Linked DNA regions of Homo sapiens: region 1 is linked to region 2. Evidence: fine-mapped expression QTL. A gene starts in region 2. The other region holds a variant in brackets. All regions are shown on one strand. Distances are from middle to middle. Region 1 overlaps LINC02994 (long intergenic non-protein coding RNA 2994). Region 2 holds the start of MRPS18C (mitochondrial ribosomal protein S18C).

Region 1 (2,926 bases), 680 kb after region 2:
CCATTGTCTCAGCCCAAAAGCTCCTTAAGCTGATAAGCAACTTCAGCAAAGTCTCAGGATACAAAATCAATGTACAAAAATCACAAGCATTCTTATACACCAACAACAGACAAACAGAGAGCCAAATCGTGAGTGAACTTCCATTCACAATTGCTTCAAAGAGAATAAAATATCTAGGAATCCAACTTACAAGGGATGTGAAGGACCTCTTCAAGGAGAGCTACAAACCACTGCTCAAGGAAATAAAAGAGGATACAAACAAATGGAAGAACATTCCATGCTCATGGGTAGGAAGAATCAATATCATGAAAATGGCCATACTGCCCAAGGTAATTTACAGATTCAATGCCATCCCCATCAAGCTACCAATGACTTTCTTCACAGAATTGGAAAAAACTACTTTAAAGTTCATATGGAACCAAAAAAGAGCCCGCATCACCAAGTCAATCCTAAGCCAAAAGAACAAAGCTGGAGGCATCACACTACCTGACTTCAAACTATACTACAAGGCTACAGTAACCAAAACAGCACGGTACTGGTACCAAAACAGAGATATAGATCAATGGAACAGAACAGAGCCCTCAGAAATAACGCCGCATATCTACAACTATCTGATCTTTGACAAACCTGAGAAAAACAAGCAATGGGGAAAGGATTCCCTATTTAATGAATGGTGCTGGGAAAACTGGCTAGCCATATGTAGAAAGCTGAAACTGGATCCCTTCCTTACACCTTATACAAAAATCAATTCAAGATGGATTAAAGACTTAAACGTTAGACCTAAAACCATAAAAACCCTAGAAGAAAACCTAGGCATTACCATTCAGGACATAGGCATGGGCAAGGACTTCATGTCTAAAACACCAAAAGCAATGGCAACAAAAGACAAAATTGACAAATGGGATCTAATTAAACTAAAGAGCTTCTGCACAGCAAAAGAAACTACCATCAGAGTGAACAGGCAACCTACAAAATGGGAGAAAATTTTCGCAACTTACTCATCTGACAAAGGGCTAATATCCAGAATCTACAAGGAACTTAAACAAATTTACAAGAAAAAAACAAACAACCCCATCAAAAAGTGGGCAAAGGACATGAACAGACACTTCTCAAAAGAAGACATTTATGCAGCGAAAAAACACATGAAAAAATGTTCATCATCACTGGCCATCAGAGAAATGCAAATCAAAACCACAATGAGATACCATCTCGCACCAGTTAGAATGGCAATCATTAAAAAGTCAGGAAACAACAGGTGCTGGAGAGGATGTGGAGAAATAGGAACACTTTGACACTGTTGGTGGGACTGTAAACTAGTTCAACCATTGTGGAAGTCAGTGTGGCGATTCCTCAGGGATCTAGAACTAGAAATACCATTTGACCCAGCCATCCCATTACTGGGTATATACCCAAAGGACTATAAATCATGCTGCTATAAAGACACATGCACACGTATGTTTATTGCGGCATTATTCACAATAGCAAAGACTTGGAACCAACCCAAATGTCCAACAGTGATAGACTGGATTAAGAAAATGTGGCACATATACACCAT[A/G]GAATACTATGCAGCCATAAAAAATGATGAGTTCATGTCCTTTGTAGGGACATGGATGAAATTGGAAATCATCATTGTCAGTAAACTATCGCAAGAACAAAAAAACAAACACTGCATATTCTCACTCATAGGTGGGAATTGAACAATGAGATCACATGGACACAGGAAGGGGAATATCACGCTCTGGGGACTGTTGTGGGGTAGGGGGAGGGGGGAAGGATAGCATTGGGAGATATACCTAATGCTAGATGACGAGTTAGTGGGTGCAGCGCACCAGCATGGCACATGTATACATATGTAACTAACCTGCACAATGTGCACATGTACCCTAGAACTTAAAGTATAATAATAAAAAAAAAAGTTTATCAAGAGAGTAATATAGTAAAAGTGACATTTTGAAAATGACTCTTCTGATAGAAGCATTTAATAAGCTCTTACAACATGCCAAGCACTACACTAAGCATAAACATGTTGCCTCAATGCAAGATGGACTTAGAATGGAGGCCCAGCTGTGACAAGAATGCACATTTGAGAATCTGGGCCATGTCTGATTGCCTGTCTTGTTTTTGTTGCCCCAAACAAACAAAGAAACAACAAAGGCAGGGAAAAGTGTAATAGCCAAAGTAATAACTGGCAGCTGCACAAGCCCTCGGTCAGGTTCATGTCATTACAGGAGTCCCTGGTGCCCCACACTTCCTAAAGGCAGAAGAGCCACAGAATGGCAATGAATATGTGAAGGTGAGCCTGGGTGGTTAGGTCATTTCTTCAGGAAGAAAAGACAGAAATAAAATTAGAACAGGGTGAAAAAAAAAAAAAAAGAAAGAAATTAAACACTGACTAGATCTATTAAAGAAATCACATCAGTCGTACAACTTGCCCTCAAATAAAAGCAAAGGACTCATACAATTTCACAGATTTTGCAGGCCTTCCAAGGAAAAAACTTCTATTTATATAAATTGTTTTATGGGCTAGAAAAAGGAACAAGAGCTCTCCAACTTATTTTAGAAATAATAATATATATTTCATACATAAAATGGATTAGGAAAGTACAAAGAAGAAAATTTATAAGCTATGCTTTATTACAGAAGCAAAAATCCTAAATAACATATTAGTCAATGATTCCAGAAATATTTTTTTAAATTAATTATGACCAAAGAAGACTCATTCTGGATCTGAAAGAATGATTTATAATTAAGAAATCTATTAAGTAATTTAATACATTAACTCATTAAAAGTTATTATTTGTTGTCTCATAAGTGCAGGAAGATTTATTACCTAAAATTCAACAACCATTAATGATTTCAAAAAACCTTATACTCACAATAAATTAAATTTCCTGAATATGATGAAAGATATCTAACAAAAGCCTAG
Region 2 (2,926 bases):
AGGACTACAGGTGCAGGCCACCACACCCGGCTAATTAAGAAAAAAAAATTTTTTTTTTTTTTTGTAGAGACTGGGTCTCTGTTGCCTAGGCTGGTTTTGAACGCGAACTTCTGGGCTTAAGTGATCCTCCCATCTCTGCCTCCTAAAGCACTGGGATTATAGGCATGAGCCACTGCACACGGCCAGATTGTAATTCTTAAAGCTGTACTAAAACAGCAGGAAGACTGGTAGACGTCTACTGAAATGTCAGCGCATTCGAAGTTTCTGATAACTGCAGCGCTTCCCTCCCAGACTACAATCTACAGTGACTGGCCTCTAACAGAAACATGGTTGTACCACTAGACACTCCAAGGAGTTCCTAGGAATTTGGAATTGAGACTGAGAAACTGAATACTGACTTGGAGTGGTCTGCTACACAGAAGACACACAAACCTGGAGGCAGCAATATAGTAAAGTGATTAAGACAACAGGATTTGGAGCAAGAACTGTACTATCTCAACTTTTCAGGGCCTGATTACTGTCGTAAAATCTAGATAATATAACTAGCTTAACATAACGGGTCTTCAATAAACAGCAGATTTTATTTGTACAGTAGGAGCTGCAGTTATCTGGAAGCCTAGATTTGTGTCTCAGTCATGCCACTTAACTGCTGCGTGCACAACTTTTATGTCTCGGGGTTTACATTTCATATTTATATAGAAATGTAAATAACAAGGCAATCAATACCTCCTAAGTGCCGATTAACAGTGGTAACGAAGACGAGAGAAGTAAACGAAGGCGATAAAACTGGTCAACTCTTTGCATCTGGGAAGGATGCCAAAAGTTTGCAGTTTCAAGTTCCAAGTCCTCCGTACCTGGTCTCCCACCCCTCTGTCAGTGGGCATGTGACGTAGGAGGTCCGGGTTTGTATCACCACCTCCAAGGACGAGACATTCCGGGGAATCTGAGAGTAGAAGGGGCTGTACCTCAACCGGCAGTACGCCCGCGGTTTTCCGCCTCCTGTTCTCAGCCACCATTTCCTCCTCCTCTTTCCCCTCATCTCCGGGCACGAGCTCGGCCGCGGTGGGAGCGCCAAAAATACACCCCAAGCTTGGACGGTTCCTTTTGGGGAGAGACACCCGCCGGCGGATGCGGGAACCACATTCATCCATGGCAAGGACCCAGGGCCCTATTCAGACGTCGTTCTCAGTGACCCAGACGCTAAGCCCATATGGAAGGGAGAGTGGGACGCCGGAGCCCGCTTCTACATCCACCTTGGGAAAAGACCCCAAGTTAGCTCTCAGGGCTCGCGGACCGGAAGCACGCATAAACTTCTACCCTGTCCAATCATAAGCCTCACGTGACCTGCCGCGTAGGGAGGGCACGAACAGAAAGGTGCTGCGCATGCGTATTGAAAAACCTCACCTACTCTCGCGGGTCCTCAGCGTTCTCCTGCGGAACCTTTGAACGGGGTACTCGAGCCCACAGGGGAAGAGCAGCGGAAGGGGCCTTTCGGAACGATTTGGAACGAAAGGAAGTGGAAGAAACGCGGAACCATGGCCGCTGTGGTTGCTGTTTGCGGTGGTCTAGGGAGGAAGAAGTTGACACACTTGGTAACGGCTGCTGTCAGCCTTACACATCCCGGGACTCACACGGGTAAAGTCTCCATATCCTATGCTCCATTGTAGCGCTGCAGGCATTAACCTTAGTCCTAATGGTTAGAGTCGTCCCTGTTAGCAAAACGACTCTGGTTTCTAGGCGATTAAGTTTCTCCAAGATGGGTGGGAATCTGTAATTGCCTTTGACTGTTTTAGTGTCGTCTAATCCACTCCTTTAAAGTATTTAAACGTATGAGGAAGTTGGAGTGGTTCTTAAAAAGCAGAGACTTTCCTAAGATCTCTGGATAATCTTAGTGAGGAAGGGACATTTCCAGAGTCGCCCAGCAGCAAATTCCAGATGTCTAAGGTCCCCAAACAGAACAAAATTGCATAATTTTTGCAATTTTATCTTCTCTGTGCTTCTCTATAAATTCTTTCTGGGACGGGTCTGTTACTTTCTTTTTGGTATGACAGTGCCTTTCTGTTGCTTCTCCTATAAGAATTTGCATTAAGAATTTTCTCTAACCATGGAATGAAGGGAAAATAAATGTCAGAAAGAGCAGGTATGGGCGGGAAAATATGTTCTTTTCCCCCTAAGCCCTGGAAAGCACACCCATGTTGAGTCTTACTCTGTCCCAAATATAAAAGTTTTTAACCATTCTGAATATAATACAAAACCTTTCTTTAATATCGTGTCCCTTAATTCATCCTGTCTCCATAAAAACAAAAATCTTTAGCTATTCAGCTAAGAAAAAGAAATGGTTAATTGCTGTTTCTGTTTAATCGCAGTGCTTTGGAGAAGAGGTTGTTCACAACAGGTATCCAGCAATGAGGACCTGGTAAGAATTTTTTTTTCTATTAGTAAGGCCTTTGCAAATATGACCAAAATGTTTTTCTTTTTAAAACGAGATCTGGTATTAGACTCTAACATCTTTTATTTTAGCTACTTGAATAGAGTTCTGCCGTAGGACAAAACAATTTGATAATTACTCTGAGTTCAGAAATGATGATGAATTGATTGTAGTCATGTAGTCAGCTGAGTTTTGAAGTAGGGGAATTCCTAGATTAGAAGCAAAGCTGCTATAATACCATATTTTTCTTCCTAGATCTTAAATTTAAGGATATGTGATTTGGGAATTGTTTTTTTTTTTTTTACATAGCCCTTTGTAAGCAAATGATATGGGAATTTTAAAAGGTAGTTTGGGTGAGCAGAATTTTAGATAACTGAAAAGAGACTGTACAAAGCTTAGCTATAGGTTGGCTATAGTATTAACATGGACTTTCTGAAAGCACAGGTTCTTGCTACATGCAAAGGTATTTTGACACTAATTAGACCATACAAAGCACTT

Evidence for each region. PIP is the estimated chance that this variant, and not a neighbour inherited with it, causes the effect.
Region 1: its variant is fine-mapped to the expression of MRPS18C in lymphoblastoid cells (GTEx, PIP 0.97).

Annotation. Positions count from the first base shown.
Region 1 is chr4:84,130,900-84,133,825 of GRCh38, forward strand. All of the region lies in intron 7 of LINC02994 (long intergenic non-protein coding RNA 2994), which reads right to left. Among named protein-coding and RNA genes, the nearest start is that of LINC02994, 170 kb to the right of the region's middle. The variant A/G (reference allele first, on the strand shown) is at 1,556.
Region 2 is chr4:83,454,543-83,457,468 of GRCh38, forward strand. It overlaps MRPS18C (mitochondrial ribosomal protein S18C), which reads left to right and starts at 1,516. Exons shown (of 6, transcript NM_016067.4): 1 at 1,516-1,635; 2 at 2,367-2,416. The coding sequence starts at 1,536. HELQ (helicase, POLQ like) reads right to left here and starts at 1,281. Exons shown (of 18, transcript NM_133636.5): 1 at 855-1,281. The coding sequence starts at 1,151. RefSeq lists enhancers at 529-1,359, 788-837, 1,178-1,287, 1,274-1,568.